2 linked regions of the Homo sapiens genome follow. The protein of the gene in region 2 interacts with the protein of the main gene of each other region in a biochemical or structural test. Each region holds a gene or a part of one and is shown on either strand. Other genes may lie near its edges.

What was found. Proteins that work in one complex are often made in the same cells at the same time.
Region 1: the proteins of SCARB2 (region 2) and THBS1 form a complex in vitro, tested with the Homo sapiens proteins (one study listed by BioGRID).

The regions. Positions count from the first base shown.
Region 1 is NC_000015.10:39,590,618-39,598,078, forward strand, and holds part of THBS1 (thrombospondin-1 precursor), read left to right. Parts: coding exon 1-6; intron 7-573; coding exon 574-733; intron 734-887; coding exon 888-1,006; intron 1,007-1,950; coding exon 1,951-2,185; intron 2,186-2,382; coding exon 2,383-2,610; intron 2,611-2,779; coding exon 2,780-3,051; intron 3,052-3,481; coding exon 3,482-3,579; intron 3,580-3,683; coding exon 3,684-3,823; intron 3,824-4,744; coding exon 4,745-4,752; 3' UTR 4,753-7,461. UniProt on the Homo sapiens protein: Adhesive glycoprotein that mediates cell-to-cell and cell-to-matrix interactions.
Region 2 is NC_000004.12:76,210,644-76,219,024, reverse strand, and holds the start of SCARB2 (lysosome membrane protein 2), read left to right. Parts: upstream 1-5,200; 5' UTR 5,201-5,481; coding exon 5,482-5,598; intron 5,599-8,381.

The DNA of each region.
Region 1 (7,461 bases), on a different chromosome or scaffold from region 2:
GACAGGGTAAAAACAGTTTTCTATCCCTTTTTCATCTTTTCAGTTCAGCAACAGCCTGAAACACTTTGGGATTCAAGGAAATTACATGGCTATAGCAAAAAATATACCAAATCAATACACAGGATAATTAGAAATTATTCATTGTGTTCCAGTAGTTTAAGGATGTAGATGTTGCCAAGAGAATTTTTAAATGAGGGTTTTGTTTTTCATCAGAACTGTTTTTCTCTGTACTTGAGAAATTATAATGCATAAACAAATGCCACTTTGTTCCCTAGATTCATTTCAAATGTCACATCGAAATTACAGTAAAATTGACTTTGGGCACACTATGAACTGAGATGATGGGATTATATTCTACATCTCACTAACTTCTAACCCACAGGGATCCATTTTTTTAACTATGTCCTTTTAACTTTTGTAGTGATCGTTTTACACTGAGTGATCAATTAGCCTATCCACTAGGTAGAAAGTATTGCTGATTTTCACAGTTTTAGACATATTATGCACATGGTTTGAGGCTTGAGCTGTTTTCAAGGACAACATTGTTAAGTGCTCCATTTCTTCTCTTTGCAGGACAACTGTCCATTCCATTACAACCCAGCTCAGTATGACTATGACAGAGATGATGTGGGAGACCGCTGTGACAACTGTCCCTACAACCACAACCCAGATCAGGCAGACACAGACAACAATGGGGAAGGAGACGCCTGTGCTGCAGACATTGATGGAGACGGTAAGGTGCTGCCTGATCAGAGGGCCCGCGGGAGACAGGGACATGCACAGCTTTCCAAACGTACTTCTGTCTAGTCCTGGCTATTAGTATGCACTTTGGTGGAAACATCCAAGGCTGGAGAGCCCAGCTCTTATTTGTCCCTTGTTCTCTTCAGGTATCCTCAATGAACGGGACAACTGCCAGTACGTCTACAATGTGGACCAGAGAGACACTGATATGGATGGGGTTGGAGATCAGTGTGACAATTGCCCCTTGGAACACAATCCGGATCAGGTAGGTGGATGGACTCCTTTCAGAGTCTTTCAGTAAACTGTTGGAATATCCCTTTCATGGCCTTTGAAAAATGAGCTTAACAAAGTTCAAACACTTTCATTACTGTGGCTCCCTGGCTTCTCATAGCCAACTGGAATACGTTCATGTAAATAATTTGCCTGATGTGAGCTCCTTGCACAGAGTCTCACAGATCTTTAGCATGAAGATCTGGTAACTTCAGTCTTACCTTCTGTAAGAAGGGCTACTGGACTTGCTCAGCATCGTCTACCATTGTTAAGACAAATTATACAAAGCAGACATCTGTGACTGACAACTGTACAATAATATTAATCATATGTAATACTAAGAGATGGAAAAATAAATGTGCATAAGCAAAATAACCATTTTCATGGCTAATGATGTAATCTAGCTATAAGAAAATCATCAAACTAAGGATACATCCAAAACCAAAGTAATTTATCCCTGTCATAAACATTACCCAGACAGTATACAACACAGGGACCAGTGGTCTGTTTCCATCTTTTCAGGACTTTTCAGAGAAGTCGACGTGTCAACAGTTTTACAACTGAAACCTTCTAAGGAAATTCTCTGTTATAAAGTATCCAGAAAATTTCATTTAACATTAAGATGTAAACAGTTAACATTTCATTTCATCTTTAGTAATTAAATATCACTCTATTTGACCTTATTTAGAAAGTTTTATATGTAAAACATTTTTAAATTATCCCTTCTCAGATTTTTATACGAAAACAAAGATAAAGGAAAAAAACTTTTAAAATGTAATTGCTACTATTGCTATCTTTCTGCAGGAGTGTGTAAATAGACATGACACCCCACTGGCTGTATCAAACAATGGAGAATTTTCCCTGTGGTGGGGGCATAAGTTATCTTTAACATGAATGGTTTATACTGCAATTTACCCTCCATTTACATCTCTCTTTCAGCTGGACTCTGACTCAGACCGCATTGGAGATACCTGTGACAACAATCAGGATATTGATGAAGATGGCCACCAGAACAATCTGGACAACTGTCCCTATGTGCCCAATGCCAACCAGGCTGACCATGACAAAGATGGCAAGGGAGATGCCTGTGACCACGATGATGACAACGATGGCATTCCTGATGACAAGGACAACTGCAGACTCGTGCCCAATCCCGACCAGAAGGACTCTGACGGTGAGTCATGGGAGCCACTTTCTAAGACAGGGACTGCTGGCACAGCTGTGTAGATTGAAGAAATGAAACCAAGGCTCAAAGCATTTGACAGGATGAAGGGACCAAATGCCAACTTAGACAAGATAGTGACATTTCTGACACCAGTAATAATAATAGCACTTTAGAATTTTGCTGAACTCTTGCTTTTTTGACCTCAGGCGATGGTCGAGGTGATGCCTGCAAAGATGATTTTGACCATGACAGTGTGCCAGACATCGATGACATCTGTCCTGAGAATGTTGACATCAGTGAGACCGATTTCCGCCGATTCCAGATGATTCCTCTGGACCCCAAAGGGACATCCCAAAATGACCCTAACTGGGTTGTACGCCATCAGGGTAAAGAACTCGTCCAGACTGTCAACTGTGATCCTGGACTCGCTGTAGGTGAGTAGCGAGTTCTTAGATCCTAAGAGACTGATGCATACATGGGGAAAAACAAATATAAAACCTGGCAGTTGTACCTATCCCTGTGGGTGCTGAGGATGTCTAGGAACATGATGGAGAACCTTCTGAAGGCTGCAGGTTTTAACCTGGCTCTGGGCTCTTCTTCCAGGTTATGATGAGTTTAATGCTGTGGACTTCAGTGGCACCTTCTTCATCAACACCGAAAGGGACGATGACTATGCTGGATTTGTCTTTGGCTACCAGTCCAGCAGCCGCTTTTATGTTGTGATGTGGAAGCAAGTCACCCAGTCCTACTGGGACACCAACCCCACGAGGGCTCAGGGATACTCGGGCCTTTCTGTGAAAGTTGTAAACTCCACCACAGGGCCTGGCGAGCACCTGCGGAACGCCCTGTGGCACACAGGAAACACCCCTGGCCAGGTAAGAAGCAAAGCCCTGGAACAGAGAGAGAGCTTATGGGTGCCTGACTAGCACTGGGGATGCTGTGCTTTGACCAAGACTCTGACCAGGGAGTCTTAGAAAGTTCCCAGCATCACCAGCTGCAGCATTGAACTCTGCTTTGTAAAAACATAATAGTGTTGAAAAGGGAGCTTGACCAAGAATTGCCCTGCAAATCCTAAGGTGCCTTCAGCCTTTTCAAACAAAAAAACCTCCTTCCCTCCTCTCTGTCTGCTTTATATGTGTGCTCAGTGGCACACAACAAATATGAGAGGACTTGGAAAAATTCCCCATTGCAGCCCTCTAACTTAGATCAGCTCAGTACCTTTCAAGCATTGTTTCTGATGGAATGAAATAGAAATCTTTACCTGAAGGAGCTGTGTTTCAACCTTTCCTTTTCCTTTTCCTTCAGGTGCGCACCCTGTGGCATGACCCTCGTCACATAGGCTGGAAAGATTTCACCGCCTACAGATGGCGTCTCAGCCACAGGCCAAAGACGGGTTTCATTAGGTACGATCATACTGATTCACTTTCACTTACAGTCACACTGAGGGACAAAAAGACAAAAAGTATTAAATAGCATTGTCACTAAACAAGATTTTTTTTCCCTGCAGAGTGGTGATGTATGAAGGGAAGAAAATCATGGCTGACTCAGGACCCATCTATGATAAAACCTATGCTGGTGGTAGACTAGGGTTGTTTGTCTTCTCTCAAGAAATGGTGTTCTTCTCTGACCTGAAATACGAATGTAGAGGTAAGAGCAACATCACCATGAATGTACACTGGACATCTCTATTTCAGACTAATATCAAGGATGACGGTTATGGGGGAGTCCAGTGTAAAGACTGTTTTGGAGACAGGGTTATTTCTATTTTGCTTTTGAGGACACAAGGACAAAAATGGAATAATGCCTAGGCACTGTGGCTTATGAGTTCCTGAGTCCTTAGCTATAATATTAGTTTGCTTAGCAATCTCTGTGCTCCTCATACACAGTGCAAAGGTAAGCTGCAGAAAAGCTCCTATATAATTTGGACTTCATTAATAATACTGTTCTTTACAATTATATATTTATATATCTTACTGCTTATTGTTTTATGCATGCCATCACAGCACGAGTTAGCATTCCCAACTTTTCCCTGTATACAAAGAAGGGAGAGGAATGTTGCTTTCATATTGGCATGTTAAATTAATGTTCACTATTAAACTTAGCATTTTTTTTCCTCATTCTTTTTTACTTAGTCATTACTTAAGCTCGCTGAGTCCAACACTGGCTCTACCACAAAATAAGTGCTTAATATATATTTACTGGGCCAAGGCCAGATACCTAAAAGATCAATGACAGTAGAGAAAGATGGTTGATTTTACTCAAAAAAATCTAAATTATTAATGTAATTTTTGAGTCCAAATTTTTAAAATAAGACTCCCTAAACTGTTAACATTGAAAGCCTTTGGAAAGCATAATATATGTTCTGGAAGGTTCACGCTGTGTCGGTCTCCTAGCATCAATGTCAGCTAATAAAATTAAATGCTAATGTGCTTGAACAACCTTAAAATTAGGCTTTTGTCATTAGAAAAGTAGAGCTATTCCTATGTGGTTAACTTATTAACTAAGATGTCTATGCTTTTATGAATTAGTTTTCATTTGTATATTTATTTATATTTGTTTATTTAACAGATCCCTAATCATCAAATTGTTGATTGAAAGACTGATCATAAACCAATGCTGGTATTGCACCTTCTGGAACTATGGGCTTGAGAAAACCCCCAGGATCACTTCTCCTTGGCTTCCTTCTTTTCTGTGCTTGCATCAGTGTGGACTCCTAGAACGTGCGACCTGCCTCAAGAAAATGCAGTTTTCAAAAACAGACTCAGCATTCAGCCTCCAATGAATAAGACATCTTCCAAGCATATAAACAATTGCTTTGGTTTCCTTTTGAAAAAGCATCTACTTGCTTCAGTTGGGAAGGTGCCCATTCCACTCTGCCTTTGTCACAGAGCAGGGTGCTATTGTGAGGCCATCTCTGAGCAGTGGACTCAAAAGCATTTTCAGGCATGTCAGAGAAGGGAGGACTCACTAGAATTAGCAAACAAAACCACCCTGACATCCTCCTTCAGGAACACGGGGAGCAGAGGCCAAAGCACTAAGGGGAGGGCGCATACCCGAGACGATTGTATGAAGAAAATATGGAGGAACTGTTACATGTTCGGTACTAAGTCATTTTCAGGGGATTGAAAGACTATTGCTGGATTTCATGATGCTGACTGGCGTTAGCTGATTAACCCATGTAAATAGGCACTTAAATAGAAGCAGGAAAGGGAGACAAAGACTGGCTTCTGGACTTCCTCCCTGATCCCCACCCTTACTCATCACCTGCAGTGGCCAGAATTAGGGAATCAGAATCAAACCAGTGTAAGGCAGTGCTGGCTGCCATTGCCTGGTCACATTGAAATTGGTGGCTTCATTCTAGATGTAGCTTGTGCAGATGTAGCAGGAAAATAGGAAAACCTACCATCTCAGTGAGCACCAGCTGCCTCCCAAAGGAGGGGCAGCCGTGCTTATATTTTTATGGTTACAATGGCACAAAATTATTATCAACCTAACTAAAACATTCCTTTTCTCTTTTTTCCTGAATTATCATGGAGTTTTCTAATTCTCTCTTTTGGAATGTAGATTTTTTTTAAATGCTTTACGATGTAAAATATTTATTTTTTACTTATTCTGGAAGATCTGGCTGAAGGATTATTCATGGAACAGGAAGAAGCGTAAAGACTATCCATGTCATCTTTGTTGAGAGTCTTCGTGACTGTAAGATTGTAAATACAGATTATTTATTAACTCTGTTCTGCCTGGAAATTTAGGCTTCATACGGAAAGTGTTTGAGAGCAAGTAGTTGACATTTATCAGCAAATCTCTTGCAAGAACAGCACAAGGAAAATCAGTCTAATAAGCTGCTCTGCCCCTTGTGCTCAGAGTGGATGTTATGGGATTCTTTTTTTCTCTGTTTTATCTTTTCAAGTGGAATTAGTTGGTTATCCATTTGCAAATGTTTTAAATTGCAAAGAAAGCCATGAGGTCTTCAATACTGTTTTACCCCATCCCTTGTGCATATTTCCAGGGAGAAGGAAAGCATATACACTTTTTTCTTTCATTTTTCCAAAAGAGAAAAAAATGACAAAAGGTGAAACTTACATACAAATATTACCTCATTTGTTGTGTGACTGAGTAAAGAATTTTTGGATCAAGCGGAAAGAGTTTAAGTGTCTAACAAACTTAAAGCTACTGTAGTACCTAAAAAGTCAGTGTTGTACATAGCATAAAAACTCTGCAGAGAAGTATTCCCAATAAGGAAATAGCATTGAAATGTTAAATACAATTTCTGAAAGTTATGTTTTTTTTCTATCATCTGGTATACCATTGCTTTATTTTTATAAATTATTTTCTCATTGCCATTGGAATAGATATCTCAGATTGTGTAGATATGCTATTTAAATAATTTATCAGGAAATACTGCCTGTAGAGTTAGTATTTCTATTTTTATATAATGTTTGCACACTGAATTGAAGAATTGTTGGTTTTTTCTTTTTTTTGTTTTGTTTTTTTTTTTTTTTTTTTTTGCTTTTGACCTCCCATTTTTACTATTTGCCAATACCTTTTTCTAGGAATGTGCTTTTTTTTGTACACATTTTTATCCATTTTACATTCTAAAGCAGTGTAAGTTGTATATTACTGTTTCTTATGTACAAGGAACAACAATAAATCATATGGAAATTTATATTTATACTTACTGTATCCATGCTTATTTGTTCTCTACTGGCTTTATGTCATGAAGTATATGCGTAAATACCATTCATAAATCAATATAGCATATACAAAAATAAATTACAGTAAGTCATAGCAACATTCACAGTTTGTATGTGATTGAGAAAGACTGAGTTGCTCAGGCCTAGGCTTAGAATTTGCTGCGTTTGTGGAATAAAAGAACAAAATGATACATTAGCCTGCCATATCAAAAACATATAAAAGAGAAATTATCCCTAAGTCAAGGGCCCCCATAAGAATAAAATTTCTTATTAAGGTCATTAGATGTCATTGAATCCTTTTCAAAGTGCAGTATGAAAACAAAGGGAAAAACACTGAAGCACACGCAACTCTCACAGCGACATTTTCTGACCCACGAATGATGCCTTGGGTGGGCAACACGATTGCATGTTGTGGAGACACTTCGGAAGTAAATGTGGATGAGGGAGGAGCTGTCCTTGCAATGTTGAGCCAAGCATTACAGATACCTCCTCTTGAAGAAGGAATAATAAGTTTAATCAAAAAAGAAGACTAAAAAATGTAAAATTTGGAAGGAATCCATAAATGCGTGTGTGTCTAAATACAAATTATCA
Region 2 (8,381 bases):
TACTGGCCAGTAACATTGGACTACTTAGTCAATCTCTGTGTGCCTCAGTTTCCTTATCCTTAAAATAGAATGTCTACATCATAGGGCATTGTAAGGAGTAAATGAAGTAATGCAAGCCCACTGTCTAGCATAGTGCTTGTACAAGTACTATGTACAAGTAGCAGATAATATTGCTGACATATTCACCCTTTTTGCCCACTATATTTTTCTCCTCTTTGATCTCCTGACTCCTCGCCCTCCAACCACACATTCTATTAGTTAGACAACACTACGCTTGTGTTTTCAGGAAAGGGAAGAGAAAAAGGTGAATAGGATATCTCCTCCTAGTTCCGTGTTTCAATAAGTCTGCATTATTAGGGGAACAAAAAGGAAAATAAGAATTTGAAGAGGGGAATTCTCATTTTCCCATAACCCCAAACAAAATAAAAACCAAACCAAACCAAAACAAACTGGAAAAGATTCCCCTAGTTGGGGGTGCAAAGATGATAATGAGGAAGCCATGAGGTCTTCTTGATCGGAGGAGGCGGTAGACAGGGACATGGGTAACTTCACAGAGAGTCCCTGTGGCCTGGCACAGGTGCATGTGATATAATATAAATGGTATATGAGCTCTCCTCTGGGATATGTAAGCCTATCTGCATAAAGCAGTTCTGTAATGTAAGAACTTTGGAATGATGGGTAGGGGAGGAGGGAGGAGAGAGTAATTTTTTCTTATGGAGGCTGTATTGCTCAGGATTTAGGATGCCCCACAAACATTTAGGAATAACATATGTCAAATCACTAGGGTGTGATGGTACATTTTATAGATCACCTTCAATAAGAAGAAAGCCAAGACTTTTAGAAGTATCTTGGAGCCTGACCTGTCCCAAAGTAGGCAAGGCCTAGGGCCATTTCCATTCAAACTCCTGGGATCAAGTGATTCTCCTGCCTTGGCTTCCCAAAATGCTGGGATTACAGGCATGAGCCACCTGGCCCGGCCTGTGGTGTATTTTAAATGTTTATATTTAACACATTAACACTTTGAACATAAAAGTATACAATGACTACATCATTAAACTCATTTGAGTATAGTATCAACATTCTAAATTTAAGGTAGAGCCCAAAGAGCCCTCTTGCTTCCCCTCGATAGCCCTTAGAGTCTGTGAAGAAAGCTCTTTTTCTAAGTCCCGAATGATTGCATAATTTCAACAGGCACCAGCAATCATTCATTAAGTGTACTTGTTCTTCTCAGATAAAGTCTTCTGATTTTAGGTATAGAGAGATCACCGTATCTCCTTGCCACAGCATCAGTCTCCTCATTTTCCGCCCTTGTCTGTTTGTGTTGCTATAACAATACCTGAGATTGGGTAGTGAAAAGAGGTTTATTTGGCTCATGGTTCTGCAGGCTGGACAAGACGCACGGCACAGACATCTGCATTGGATGAGGGCCTCAGGCTGCTTCCACTCCTGGGAAGGCAGAAAGGGAGCACACCTGTGTGAGGCACATGGGCAGAGAGGAAGCTAGAGAGAGAAGGAGGAGGTGCCAGCTCTTTTCAACAACCCGCTCTCTGACAACTCACTCATGCCTGAGGGAGGCATTAATCTATTCATGAACAATCTCTCCTCAGGACCCAAACACCTCCCATTAGGCCCCACCTCCAACACTGGGGATCAAATTTCAACATGAGATTTGGAGGGAACACAAATCCAAACCATAGCAGAGAAGTCACCAGGAAGAGTCCTGATTGTCTCCCTGCCCTGGCATCAGCCTCCTCATCTAAACTCTGGGAGCAGTAACCCCTTCCCAAGCTGTCTGCCCCTCCAGAGTGTGTTCAGGGTTATTAGTGGCTGGCAAGCAGGGGCTACTCCCTGGATGAGAGGGCAAAGTCTCTCATAGGGTGAGATGATCCTGTGGCAATAAACTAACAATGCCAATTAGCGGTGCAGACATGTCCTATAGATCAGAAATGAGGAGGAAGTCCCAAAGGGCATTGAGAAACTTAAATCTGGATTTTGGGGCTTTGTGTCAAAAGCTTCTGAACATAGCTGTGGGTAGAGAAGATGGAACTGAACAGAAAGACAGCCAGGCCAGCTGCTAAAAAGTTATGCCAGCCTCGGTGATAAGACAGAGATTACTGTGGGATCACAGACTGCTATTTTGGGAACATACATTATTTTCTTAAAAGCTGTTTATATTTTCTGTAATTAGGTCCTTTTTGTTCTGTCTTATGTTAACACATTTAAAAATGCTAGCCTGGTCAGCTGTGTTAAGAAGAACCAAGAAAGAGATTTTCATTCGGCTTGTCCAGAGTTTTAAAGGGGAAGTGGCTTACTAACCGCCTGACATAGTGGAAACAGAGTGAGATCCTCAGAGAGCAGGTAAACTGAGGGCAACTTGAGCTGTAAACCCTTGTTTAGAAACTCTCCCACACTAAGATACATTTATCAAATTTGTCTCCATCTCTCCATCCCCACAGTCTGTTACTGTCCTGGTGGCCCAGACAAGAGAGAAGAAGGGACCTCAATGAACAATGAAAAGGAAGAGTACCCTGGGATTGGTGGTCCAGGGATGGGAGGAGTGGGTACCTATGGAGTTTGCCCTCCAGAATGGAGCCCGCAAACAGAAAATCTGATTGTAGCAGTCAGAGAGTAGGGGGTGGAAGTTCAGTGTGAGCATGAACTTCTGAGTGCCAAAGTACCTAGGCAGGCAAGTTACCAAATTTTTTTTTCTAGTTAGGGAAGGAGAGGACATATAGATGACAGGAGGACTTCAACCAATGCCTAGGTAGGGGACATGTGAGGGTTAGTGGGCTAGCATTGCTCCTTAAGCAAACTGGGGCACAGAGCAGAGTTAATGTAGCTAACTGAAACTTAACAGCAGAGAAGAGGCAGGATTAGGGGAAGAGAAAGGCTGCCGATTGTGGACACCTGAGGACTGGAGACCACCCACCCATCAGGCTGGGGACAGTTGAATCATTCAGGACCCCACCAGGTTCTATTTGAACACAGGACTGGTCCTCTGGGGCTGCTGCTTGAAGAGCTTTGGTAGCTACAAAATGTCCCAGCCTCAGTTCTGCCCTTACCATCTGCTCCAGTTATCTACTGAGTAACCTACCACACCAACACTCAGTGGCTTAAACAACAACAATCCTTTATTTTGCATTTTGAGCAGGGCTCAGCAGGGACCACTCACCTCTGCTCTGTAATGTCTAGGGCCTGTGACTCAAAAGGCTAGGGACAGCTGGGGACTGGTGGGACATTTCTCTTCCTACAGACTCAGGGCTTCTCCCCACAGTCTTTCCCATGTTCTCTGCAGCAGTCTCCGGGTAGCTGAACTTAGGGGTGACTTGAGGCTCCAAGAGCAAGAATTTGCAAAGGCCCCAGCAGAAGTTGCAAGGCATTTATGATCTAGCTTCAGAAGTTCCAGGATATGGTCATTTCCACTGTATTCTATTGGTTTAACAAATTGCTAAAACCTGCCCAAATTCAAAGCGAGAAAGTATAGACCCCACCTCTCAACGAAAGGAGTAACAAATAATTTGCCACCATTTTTAAACCATCATGCTATCTCACCAAGTCCTCAACAAAGCCTCCTAACTGATTTGCTGTCCTCAGATTCTCATTAGTGACAGATCGGGATGCAGCAATGCGCAGAGTAGAAAAAGTGAGGGTTTTGGAAGCCAACAGCCAGCCCTACATCCTGGTTCAAGCAGGATCCACCACTCAGCAACCAGTTGAGCTTGTTAGGTTACTTAACTCAGAGCCCCAGTGTTCTTGAGTGTAAAATGAGGATAATACACTATAGTTGCCAAGAAAATGTACTTCTTGGATCTTGCAGTGTAGATAGCATAACTGACCAATGGCTCCGCCTCAACTGCTGAGCTCTGCTGAAATCCATACCCTGATATTTATCCCTAGGTTGCTGCAAAGGCCAGCTTCCTAAGGCTGCTCCCAGCTCATGACTGAGCACAGCAGGGATACTAAGGCGGGCCTCTTTCTGGGAGATGCCAGACTTCTGGGACAAGCCCATTTGGCTAAAGGATTCCCCACCCCAATGGCCTTGCTGAACTTTTTATACATGGACTGTATATATATCAAATGCTTCCTTCCACCCAACCTTCCTTCCTTGCTTGCCTCTTTCCTTCACAAGGATCACACCTGCATCCCAGGTCCAGCTCCCTGTTTTCCCTCAAAACTCTCTTGCATAGTACCCCCATCTGGGACTGTTTCTGGAGGACTGGGACAAACACAACCTCCTATTCATAGGACTGCCAAGGGTATTAAATGAGTAGAACTGTGCAAAGAAACTAGTAAAGGGCTGGCGTAGAAGAAACACTCATTTAACGAACACTTCTTGAGTCCTGGCTGTGTGCAGGTCTTGGTCCTGGGTGTCTGGGACACCACAGTGAGCAAAGCAGGCAAGAACACCAGCGATGCCTGCTTTAAGCTCCTTCCCAACTTCCACATCTTTAACAGGATACCAAGAGCCCTTCAAAGTCTGACCTCTTGGGGCCTCAACACCTCCGACTCCACCCCCTGAACACCTGAGCCTACAGTCAAAAGGAACTTCCTTCTTGCTTCCTACAGGTTTTGCTCTTTCACCCCCAATGCCTTTGCTCACCGTTTCCTTCTCCGTGAAATGCCTCCTCCTCCCTTTTTTGCACATCTTCCATTCTTGCACATGCCCCTTACGTGACAAACTTATGCATCCCCCAGGCCCCAGTTCAATGTGGGGCCCTAGGTCATCCAGGCAGAACATGCTTGCTGGCATGATCTCAGCAGGCACCTGGTAGAAGCACTTGCTACATTGTGTTGTAATTGCGGTAACGGTGTCCCCGCTAACTTGCGAGCGCCTCTAGAGCAGGGGAATGTCCCAGCCACCTTGAATCCCCAGCGCGTGGCCCATGGGAGGCCCTCAGACCTATCTGCGGAATGAGTAAATGAGTGTGTGAACCAGGTTCGGCAATTTCGGTGGGGCGAGCGCTGGGCCTGCGGTGCAGGGCGCTGGGAGCGGCCAGGCCGGGCCTGGCTCAGGCGCCGCAGCCACTCAGGGCCACCGGGGACCGGCCGGGGAGGGCGCGGGCCGAATCACTGCCGCCGCCGCAGGGCACATGACTGCGGCCTCCGCCCCCGCCCGCCTCCCCGCGCAGTCGCCGGCGGTTGCCTCGCGGGGTTGCGGCGAGCCCGGCCCGCGAACGTCACGTCCCTGCGCGCTCCCTGCACTCTCCCGAGCTGCGCTAGGCGGGCGCCACGGCTGCCCGGCGAAGGAAACCGAAACCGAGTCCGGGCCCGTCCCTCCGCGGCCCCATCCGCCCGGTGCACCCGGGGCCGCGCTCGCCAGGCCGCGGAGCCCAGAGCTGCGCGCACGAACCGTGCGCCGGGAGGGCGTGGGCGTGGCGCCGAAGGGTCCCGGGTCTTCGACGCCTCTGCGGCGGCTCCTCCCTCCTTGCAGTTGGATCCCTGGCGGGTGCGGCCCGGCCCGGCCCGTGAGCGGCGCACAGAATGGGCCGATGCTGCTTCTACACGGCGGGGACGTTGTCCCTGCTCCTGCTGGTGACCAGCGTCACGCTGCTGGTGGCCCGGGTCTTCCAGAAGGCTGTAGACCAGAGTATCGAGAAGGTGAGGCGGGGCGGGCTGTGTGTGTGTTGTGGAGTCGTCCAGCTCACCCTCCCATCCCTGCTGCTACATCTTGTATGGGAAAGACCAGCACTCAGGCAGACCCTCCGCGCTAGAGCTCTTCTTGCGTCCCTGTCTTCCAGGGCTTGGTAGGCGAGGGTTAAAGAAGGATGAGGAAGGATGGAGCCGACTCTGTTCCCTTTACAGTGATAAGTAAGGCTATGGATCCTGACTTTTAAAAAGGCCTTCGGTTGTGTTCTGTCGTTTGCATCTCTCCCCACTCCTTCCGTCTACACCCCAATCTCAGGTGGGCCCAAACTTGTTTCCTTCCCACTTCATGAAGAAACAGAACTGAATGAAAGACACCGCAGAAGAGGCAGGTTATGTTGTCTGCTTGCTGTAGCCTTTGAAGTGGTGTGCGCCTGGGGATGAGACGTGGGTGTGCGGTCTATTGTGTTCTTGCCCTCTTGGGCTGGGCAGGGGCAGTTGGTAGCTGGGCCAGTCCTTTAGGCTGGGTGACAATTCATCCATCAGTCTTTGCTGAACGCTGACTTAGTGGCTTTGTATCTTGTACCAACAGTCTGTGTTGCTTTGTCTCACCATGAATTCTTGTTTTTCTCAAACGGCCATAATTTTCAGGCACAGATGCATTTAGATACCCTACAAGAATCTGAACTTGTCTCTTCCTCTAGATGATTGGGCTGGAGAGCCAGTCCTTTAAGAAGACTTCATCTTTTGATTTCACTGGTCATTTCATCTGCCCTTTCCCCCACATCCACCAAGCTGTGTCAAAAGAGGAACAAAAGAGAATTACTGGGATCATTTTTTCCTTAAAAAAGAAAAATAATCACTGGAGCAGCAGCCTTTCTTGTTAGCATCCATAACTGCACGCTTCATTTCTCCCACTGGTCTGCACTTGCTGCGGCCAGATAAAAAAGCCCAGGCCTAGTCTACTTTGAATCACTGCACTCTCCAGTCAGTAAAGCTATTTTATTCCAGGTGGCAATGGATATCTTCCTTTAACTGAGTTTCCAAAAGTAATTAAGTGAGTACCTGAAATCTGGCAGTTAAAGGCAGTTTTTCAAAAAGCACCATGGCAAAGCATAATGTAATTTTTAAAGTTCACATTGCCAAGGGAAGACAAGGCCCACTGTCTGAGCGTCTCGAGGGTCAGTTTCCTTTGAGCAATCATGTTCAAGGAAAAAAGAAACTGAATCCTTTCTCCACTCCTGTCCATGTCCAAATCCATGGTGAGCTGTGTTTGAGGATGTAAACTCTTGCTTTGGGTGACTAGAGTAAAGCAATCCAATTATAGTAAATATGTGAGTTTTCTTATATGGCCTTGAAAGGCTGTTTCAAGGAGCCCTATAGGATGAGTGATCTTCCCCGTGGTTCCCATATAGCCAGCCCTTAGATTCTCTGTGTGTCTCCATTTCTCTGGGTGAGGGGGTGGCTGTAAGGCAACTTGGCTGGGGCCTGAGTTTGTGTTGATATTTCCAAGTGTTTTTCTCCATGAGGAATGGACTCTGTTCTGATAAGTAATAGTACAGGGAAGTGGACTTTCAGAGCTGCTCAATCCCAGCTAAGGAGGACTGCACGGTGTATTGTATGAAACTAAAGGACAGGGCTAGTTTCAGTGGGCAGGTGTGGAAATACTGTTGTCATTAGAGGTAAGTCACACATCGCTATTCTGCTTTTTCCTGGATTACCTGTAGGGTGGTAGGTAGCATGGGACAGTGGGAAAGATTGAGGATGTTACACTCCTGGGCATGAAACCTAGCTTCCACTATGTCCCAGCTCGGTGACCGTGGGCTGTTTAATCTTACTTGATTCATGTTTTCCCCATCTGTAAATAGGGATAATAAGGACTAACGATCACATCTGCTTTGTCAAATAATTCTTATAACCTTAAGGTGTGATCTTTCTGGGATATAGTTAGTGCTTAATAGGTGATAGCAACTTTATTTTTATTAGAAGCCACACAAAGAAAATACGTGAGATTTGGAGTCAGATTCCATATGTTCAAATCCTATCCTTGCCAGTATAAGCTTTATGACTTACGTCAAATAACTTACTTGGTCCTCAATTTCATTGCTTGTAAAACTGGGGATATGAGCTGTTAGCTAACTTGGGCACAGTGATGCATTTACCATGAAACTCGCAAAGTTAAGCTTTGGGTCTCTCACTTGCACAGACCCTTGCGAAGCCCTGTACCTCATTCTATATCCCAAATTTTCTTTTTTCTTAAGAAGGACCCTTCAAATTGTATAAGCTTCAGGACCCACAAAACCTGGATTTGTCTCTGCATGTGTATTATTGTAGGACCAAGTATAAAGCACTTAGCATAGTATCAGGCACAGAATAGGTAATCAATATGTGGCAGTCATCTTTATTGCCACTAGTATTACTATGGGAGAATTCATTCATAACTTGATTCTAATGTAGTTATAATATAATCTACTCTGATATTTCCAGTTCTTTGTTTTTTCATTTGAAGATTGTCTATGCCCCGACTTGTCTATGTCAAAAAGGGAAGAGGGAAAAGGGATGAAATTCAAATGAGTAGGTGTGGGAAGCTTAGTAAGAGAATTCCTATCCAAAAAGTTGTCTCAAATGATAATTGTCCTTGAACCCTGCAGTGACCAGAGGTAACTGAAGAGAGACTTTTAATTTTGGCCAGTGAATATCGTGGAAGGAACCAAGACAATTTTGTTTCATTTTTGGCCTCAGTGGTGACTGCCTCGTATTGGGCAAGGCCTGTAATTGTTTCTGCTTCAATTTTCTCA